Linked DNA regions of Homo sapiens: all the other regions are linked to region 1. The links come from fine-mapping of genetic effects on gene expression. A gene starts in region 1. Each other region holds a variant in brackets. All regions are shown on one strand. Distances are between the middles of the regions. Region 1 holds the start of MS4A4A (membrane spanning 4-domains A4A). Region 2 overlaps MS4A6A (membrane spanning 4-domains A6A). Region 3 overlaps MS4A6E (membrane spanning 4-domains A6E).

What was found. PIP is the estimated chance that this variant, and not a neighbour inherited with it, causes the effect.
Region 2: its variant is the best candidate, but not a certain one, in a credible set for the expression of MS4A4A in whole blood (INTERVAL, PIP 0.73).
Region 3: its variant is the best candidate, but not a certain one, in a credible set for the expression of MS4A4A in whole blood (TOPMed, PIP 0.50).

The regions. Positions count from the first base shown.
Region 1 is chr11:60,279,408-60,282,176 of GRCh38, reverse strand. It overlaps MS4A4A (membrane spanning 4-domains A4A), which reads right to left and starts at 1,511. Exons shown (of 7, transcript NM_148975.3): 1 at 1,461-1,511. The coding sequence starts at 1,501. RefSeq lists a silencer at 1,577-1,626.
Region 2 is chr11:60,176,112-60,178,880 of GRCh38, reverse strand. MS4A6A (membrane spanning 4-domains A6A) reads left to right here. Exons shown (of 6, transcript NM_022349.4): 4 at 565-621. Among named protein-coding and RNA genes, the nearest start is that of MS4A6A, 5.6 kb to the left of the region's middle. The variant A/C (reference allele first, on the strand shown) is at 1,456.
Region 3 is chr11:60,337,527-60,340,295 of GRCh38, reverse strand. It overlaps MS4A6E (membrane spanning 4-domains A6E), which reads right to left. Exons shown (of 5, transcript NM_139249.4): 3 at 2,349-2,555; 4 at 332-430. The coding sequence ends at 341. Among named protein-coding and RNA genes, the nearest start is that of MS4A6E, 12 kb to the right of the region's middle. The variant G/A (reference allele first, on the strand shown) is at 1,166.

The DNA.
Region 1 (2,769 bases):
TATCAAAATAAAGCTTGTAACTGACTCCTATGCTTTCCCATAATTCTTTGGTAACATAGGTCAGGTTCTGGTCATTCAAGGCTGGTGCTTTGTCATTCTAAGAAACTCTGGCCATAAATTCATATAACTGCCTCCTCTTTTTCCACCACAGAAATCCTTGTGTTAATTATCTACGGCACATGAAGTCCCCAAGAACAAAAACGTGTTTACCATCCAGGGCTTGACTTCTCTATATTCAATTTTTTTTTTAACTGCTGAGAATATTGGATGCATATGAGGGACATTTCTTCCAGGTTGGAGAAGAATTTAAACCTTGGTTTTGCCACATCACCTATATGCATCAGGCTCTTAAGAAATACAATGTCTTTCCCCCACACCCCTGATAAAGAGGTGGGGAAACCCAGACCACCCTTCCCTCTTCTATTGGCCCCAGTCACCTTGTGGATCAGCAGCACCACCAGTCTCTTATTTCCTCATTTTTATGTCACCATCCTCCTCATGGGTCACAATTGCAAGGAGAGAGCATGAGGAGAGTGGTACAAACAGCCATCCGTTTTTCTTGGCAAAGTTGTCAAATAGACTAGAAACCCAAAATGAGGCCTGAATCTGGATGGTTTTAGAAGGATGATGGGGATGCAGAAGTGGTGGCATGGGAAGGGAAAAGGGGGAAAGGCCCGGGCTAGGAACCAAGAATTCTGTTTTTGTTTTTGTTTTTGTTTTTCTCCCAGCCCTTTTGTTAACTTGTGTGATTCTGGGTACATTATTTCCCTTTTATTGGCTTCTTTTACTTCATCTGGGGAAAGATTACAATGGCCACGACCACTTACAAGCTTCTTTCTTATCCTAAGAATGCTAAAAGTCTACAAGGTGTTTTTCATTAGCAGATTTTATCATGAGCAGCCTCAGTTTACTGCCTGGGTGCCCCATGAATAGTGCCAAAGACCACTGGAGAACTAGGTCAGGCCACAGCCCATCTAAATGTACAAGGCTGGGGACCCTGCCTGTGCCCTACTCCATGTACACCAAATTCTGCATGTGATACATCTGTTCTTAAATCCTGAGTTATAAAAATAACCAGTCAGACACAGAGAATAAAGACCACAGAAGAAGGGCATTAACAGTAGATGAGGTAACTAGTCAAAGGTTTAAAATGTTGCTTTCAGTGTTTTGATATCCTGAAGACTCAGGGGACAAAAGTAACTAAACAACCTTATCCAGCCTCCAATGTCAGCCTTTAGGAGGCTTTTCTAACTCCTATCGACTGTAGCAAAAACTGTTCCTCATCCCCCCACCGAATGCACATTTAAAGGTGCACTCAACCCACCCCAACCCTGAATACCAGCTTGGGTCATGGGAAGTGGCCTCATTATTCTTCTCATTCCCCTCCCAGAAATTCTTAACCCAGGAAGTGAAACAAGCCATCAGCCCGAAAGCCTAGGAAGGCAAGTCCCTGGACCTACCTTTCTTCAGGCCTGCAATGTCTGCTGTAGGTCTGATGCATGCAGGGCTCTGGGCAAGTTCCTCAAAGTTCTTTGGTCTAGACCCAATCAACTTCCCCCACTCCACACCTCACTCAGTTTAAATCTGCATTCCTCTTCTAGCAGATGTTTGGAACCTTAAAGGCTGTGCTGAGAATTTCTGAGACGCACAGCTAGTTCCTCTTTTATATCGGAAGCATTAACTGATTTTGTGTTCCCAATATGGGTGTGGATGTCTATTTTGAAATTTGCTGAAAAAGCAGGGGCTGCCTGATACAGTCTTTCCTATGAAAATAATACTGCTAATTACTGTGGATATCAGTGGTAGAGGATTTACTGTATGCCAGACTCTCTTCAAAAGTCGTTATATAAACAAGTAAATGGTATTTTGTAAATACCCCCTTTCACAGGGTCACACATTTCCACAGTACTCTTGTCTTCCTGGAGCACTACTATTACTATTTTATTAGGTTGGTGCAAAAGTAATTGCAGTTTTTGCCATTATTTTATGGCCAAAATCACAATTAACTTTTGCACCAACCTTAATATACACAACTTAAATGTTTTATTTACATGAAATTCCACCTTTAGAGATTCATCAGGAGTGGCCATAAAATGGCAACAAGTTGGTTGTATGGCAATAAAACAACACCTTTCTAAGTGAAGGAAGCAGCTGGTATCATAGAACGAGCTGGTCTTTGACTAAGATCAAACCAATGGCAAACATTTCTTGCATGGCCCTGTTAATCTCCTGAACCTAAGATTCATTTGTAAAATAAAATAATGCCTACTTTACATGGAGGAGGAAAGCAAAGTGGTGTGCAGTTTTCATTCATTCAGCATTTTCTTTAGAAAAACTACTATAAGCCAAGCAGTGTGCCGTGTGCTTCTGAAAAAATGGTAAAAAATAATTTTCACTCAAAGAGTTTATAGACTACTTGGAAAAACAGACCAGTAAATAAATCACTACAATCCATTACTATCAGTTATCTGCAAGGTAAAGTGGCAATACAGATGAGTAAATACATCATTACAACCCATTGTAATCAGTGATCTGCAAGGTAAAGTAGGATATCCTAAGAGAGCTCATAGGAGGATCAATGAACCCAACATTGGGTAGGCAGAGGAGACTTCCTAGATAAGGGGACATCTAATTGGAGACCTGATGAATGAGCAAAAGACACACAAATGGAAAGGGAATGAAGGAAGGTAATATTATTATTTCTATTTTTCAGAAGAAGAAACTGAAACTCAGAGATATTCGTATAGCTGGTATAGATGAGATTGAAAT
Region 2 (2,769 bases), 100 kb after region 1:
TATAGAATGTTCCTAAATTTGGGTTTGTCTGATTTTTTTTTTTGATGTTTAGAGTATGGTGATGAATTTTTGGGTGGTGATGATGAGGTAAAGCACCATTTTCATCAAGTCGTATCAAGGGTCATGCTACCAACATAATGTCACTGACACAATTAACCTTGATTATGTGGTTGGGGTAGTATTTTCCAGATTTCTCCTCTGTAAAATTACTACTTTTTTTTTTAACCATTGCTTTTATGTCCTTCCCTAGAGAACATCTTACACCAAAACTGTCTCATTTTATTAAAAAAACAAAAATTATTTCCTGGCTTTTAAGGTCTTTTTTTGTTTAGTGGGATATTTTTTGTTTATTAGGATATATTTCTGCTATCTTTTTTTTTTCTGATGTTATCTGAATGTTATATGGACAAAGGGACAAATCTATGTATTTAAATGGAACTTACCTCATTGATCACTGGTTTCTCAGGGATTTTCCCATGAGAGTTGTCTATAAACATTGTGATAGTGACGTCGAAGGTACTCTGTACATGGAATCTGACCTGACCATTTTCTCTTTTATCTTAGTTTATCATCTCTGGCTCTCTATCAATCGCCACAGAGAAAAGGTTAACCAAGCTTTTGGTGAGTAAGAGAGCTATAACCCACAACCCAATGGATCAAAATAAAACTTAGACAGAACTCTTTAAGGCTAGTCTTTCTACTTTGAAAAGTTGAAAACTCAGTTCCAGAGCAGTTGGTTGTTGTTAGAATTAGGAGCTGGGCCTGGATCCTCTGTATCCTTGTTCAGAGAACATTTCTCCAATTATTGTACCCTACATCAAAGTCTGCATTCAGGGGATTATAATATTCCCTCTGCCCATGCCGAAGAATGTATCACAGAGAAATTGTGCCTGTTTATGAGGTTCTTTCGGTGATAACTGGCCTTCAAATTCAGGTTTTCAGTGGCAAGGAAGCTGACAGTGTTATAAAGCGGTCTATTGGTTGGGGTCCATTCTTTAAGCCCAGGTGTTACAACCCTTGAAAAAAAAATGAGTCAAAGTGTTGTTCATGTGAGGTATCCAAAGTAGACACAGAGGCTACTACAGTATACTACATTACATTTAGGCCTGATGTCTCCTCAGGTTCCTTTAGACTTTCTCAGATTTTCCTTTTCCTTGAGGACTTCAATAGTTTTGGGTAGTGCTGGCTGACTGTATCCTTTCATCTATCTCACCAGAAGTATAATACTTTTATTTTGTTTGAGTATAAATTCTTGCACCCTAAAAAGTTGTCCTTAGTCATTTGTATTGGCTAACAAAAAAACAAAACAACAACAACAAAAAACAAAGCTTTACCCGTCTTTATCCCTTATTCCAGCAAAAACTAGAGTTGGAAGTGGCAGGGAGACAAAGCCTGGATTATAGGGAGAATCTTCTCTTGTCTTTAAAGTTTCATTAAGTCTTCGCTCAATCCATT[A/C]TCTCTCAAGGGGTTGATGTTGGAGATTATGTGAGAGAATGTCATACCATGCAATTGCACCGAGACTCAATTTGGAAGCTCTGGCTACAAAAATCTCCCAAAGCCAGCAAGGAAGTGAGAAACGGCATCCAGAAAAATGCCAATTCTTTTTCTCATCGGTATTTAGAGATTATTATTTGGAACCCTCAGTTAGACTCGGAACTACTAACTAGATCTGTGCTGTTTAATTTAACTTTCTTTGAGGATGGAAATGAAATGTAACTTTCTATGATGATAGAAATGAAATGTAACTTTCTATGATGATGGAAATGCACTACAGCTGTACTGTACAATATGGCAGTCACATGTGGCTATCGATGATGTGAAATATAGTGCAACTGAATAAAAATTTCTCTTAATTTTACTTTAAATATAGATAGTCTATGTGGCTATTGGCAACCATACTGAGTAGCCTGGCACAAGGGTAGTGCTTTCAAACTTTTAGGAGGAAATATATGGGCCTGTTACTCCAGAGAACAATCCCACAGTGAACATGCAGGAAGCTCAAGGATGCAGGATGTGGTCTCGGGGTGGGCTCAGACTTACCAGAGACATCGAGGCTTTAGCGAGTTCTACTCTTGTCACACATTGCACCAGCCCTTTTTGAGATTGAAGAAGAGTGCCATCTCAAGACAAATCTAGCTTATTCTAAGAAATATAGACTCTAGGCATCAAGAATACTACTGGCTACTAGGAGGCCCAGGAGTGTACACTTCAGTCATTATGTTGGGAAATTGGGGTCCCAGAGTATCAACTGGTGAGTTCCTAAAAGAAGAAGTGCCCATGTGGGATTAAGTAACATTCTACTGTATGGCTGTGAGGTGTGCCCTGGAGCCTACCTACCTGTAACTATAGCTCTCAGAGTACTCTTAGCTCAATTCTCTTTTCTGTGTGAGTTGGAGTACAAAAGAAGTCACTTCTGAGGTTAGTTTATCTATTCCCTTCACTTCATAAATGTATAAATGAGAACCAGAGTGGGAAATAAAATCAAGGAACTGATTACCCAAGGGAATAAACCAAGGCAAGTCTAGTACTGTGACTTCAATATTCTGACCTCCAGTTCAGACCTTTTTCTTGTACTTCCCGCTGCCTCCCACACATTACACCATCCTTGGGCCTGCACCTAGACCTCTGCCCACAGCCACCCCATACTGCACTCAGTGTGGCCAATCATATGCCTGCCCATGTTCCAGGGCCTGCCTGAGACTCAGAACCACCCCCTCACTCATCTTTGAGAGGTGTGCTTTTGAGAGAAGCAATGGGCAGGCGAGAGTG
Region 3 (2,769 bases), 58 kb before region 1:
AGCGTCCTCAGCACAGGTACAGACTCATATCATAATGCCAGCCCAGTCATTTAACTTCCCAGAGTCTCATTCCCTTCAATGACAAAATGGGAAGATTGAACCAGTTGATTTCTCATTTTAACTATTTTCATATCCAGTGAACTCTCAGCTTGTCAGCTACTCAATTACCATCTGCTTTTCTTCTCGGTCTTCCATCACCATTTAAATGACCTCCCATGTGTATCTCATGACTGACTGATTGTTCCTTCTACCACTCTTGGTGACATACTCAACACAGTGCAGAGATAAGATACACTAGGCAAGATTAAGCGAGGCTGGCCAGCACACTCACCCAGGGAAGTCAGACAGTCTGTTTCCACTGCAGCACAGCAGTGAGCACAGCTAGGCAGAACTCCAACACAGTAGAAACCAGCATCAGAGACAGAGTTCCCTGAAAGTCAAGAAATAAAATATCAGTGATGCTTGGGTCAGCCGAAGCTTTCATGCCTAGTTTAGAGGTGACCATAGAGATGAAGACCACCTCAACCATTAGAGAATGAAGTAAGGAAACAATCAGGAAAACAAAACTGCTCCTCCTCACAATTGTCTTAATTCAACTCCTTCACTCATTCAGTTTCTTGAGAAGAGAAGGGAAGATGAGTAGTAACTAAATCAACTAATCCATTTCATACACTTGTTTCTCACTTCTTTGAGACGTACGTAGTTCTGATGACATTGTTCACTCAGTAAGAGAGCAGAGTGGCGTAATAGCTCCCAGGACTGAGAATCAGCAGCTCCATTATAGTCTCATCTTTACTGCTGAGTAGCTGTGTAAGCCTGGACAAGTCTCTTTCTTTCTCTAGCTCCTGTTTCCTCATGTATCAAACATGCATACTAACATTTATTTCTCAGAGATTTGTGAGGATCAAGGAGGTTTTGGCTGTGTAAGCCCTTTGTAAAATTCAGTATTGACATCCCTGTCTATGTATCTGAACCTGTTTGGATGTTTTTTATTTTTGTTGTTTATTTTTTATTTTTGCTGTTTTTGGTGTTTTAAGACTTGGAAAAAAACAGTGAAGGTAGTAAACTGTTGCTAATCACCAACACCAACTCACAAGGATGAGTTCTACCATTTCTGTCCTGAGACATTCTTTGTGCAGAACTGGTCATCTGATAATAAAGGGAG[G/A]TAATTTGATCACATGAACTTTTGTTTTGTGGTATTTACACACAGTTAAATAGAAGATACATGTTGTGTCCATTACCTAGAAATTGTTCCAGCAAGCAAGCTCAACAGAATCTCTCTTATTTCCAATATAAAATCGTCCCATCATGAATTTATACTTTATCACTACCAAATTTCTCCCAAATTTCTCTCCAGAATTTTTCCCAAGGTGGAATTTGTACCAATTACTGTCAGCCTCATTTGCATGCACTTTTTCCTCATTATACCATTACCTTGGAAGCAAGGCTCAGTTTATAATGGGTGCTGTACAAGCATGAATTTGACCAGACCTTTCTATCTGTCCATCGTCCAGGTGAGTTCTTGGCTGACCTCATTTTTATGATTGCAGGACAATAAATATTCTGCAACTTCTTTACTTTTATGTTGCCTGTTTTCCTCTCAATGCGTTGCTGGCCATGCACATACCCCTTAATTTTTCAACTTCAGACACATTATTTCTGTTAGCCAAACTTCATTGTTTTTCTTCTTCCAAAGAGAGAGAATTCTCCTGCGATAATTCTCAGTTACACTCTCCATCTCCCTATATTTCTTATCTCCTGATTTAAGATATCACACTTCTTTCAGCTATAACAAAAAGCAATAATAATGTTACCGTTTCACCTGATTAGTATTATTCATTATTGTAATCATTAGGAGAAACCCTTACCATCTAACCCCATATTTCCTATTCTCTGTTTCTTCATCTTTAGTCTGATGTCTTTTTAGACCAAACTGACCCCCTACCACACACACATACCACATTTCCTTGTCAGCATTTTCTGATCACCCGGGTCTTTCTGCTCTGTTTGCCAATCTGAATTCACCACTCTATGTACCAACATTCTCAGTTTGACAAACTCATAATTTATGCCTCCAAAATTAGATTAGTTGAGTAATTAAGAAACTCTACAAACCGTAAGTTTTAGTTTTTCATCATCAACCTTATCTGACATTTCAATTCCACTCTGTTAGTATGTAATCCCCTTAATCTCATCCATGCAGCCCCCCTTTGATTTACATAACCTTGGCCTTCCTCCAGATGCCCAAACCAGAATTAACAGAGAGATTTTCAAAGGATGGAATAATAAGAAATCAAGGCTTTCAGAAACCTCATAAAATTAGAACATCCCATCTAAAAAATACTTACAGCCAGACTGGCTTTGGCTCTATGGCAGTCCATGGTGTAAGGTGAATGATAATCATAAGAAAGAAGAAGTCTGGTTGGTATATCCTTTTCGTCCAACTTACACTGCAATGAGGCAGGATTTAATGCAGCCGGGTTGACAGACAGGAGAATGAAACCCACCAGGGCAGACAGAGCACTCAGAATGCTTCCAGCCAGGCTGCTATGCACCTGAAAGAGACATGCTGGGTAAGAATCATTCCCAAAGGGCCACGAATCTCTCTTATCCCTTTTTGCCATTACATTGCAAGTTATTCCCTTATCTGTCTCCCTCAGGAAGTCCCGGAGGGATCATTTCTTGTTGTAGGCCTCTCCAGTGTCCAGCCAAAAACTCAGAATCTGCAACGTAAAACTTGGCTGAATGAATGAACATATGAACTGGTTC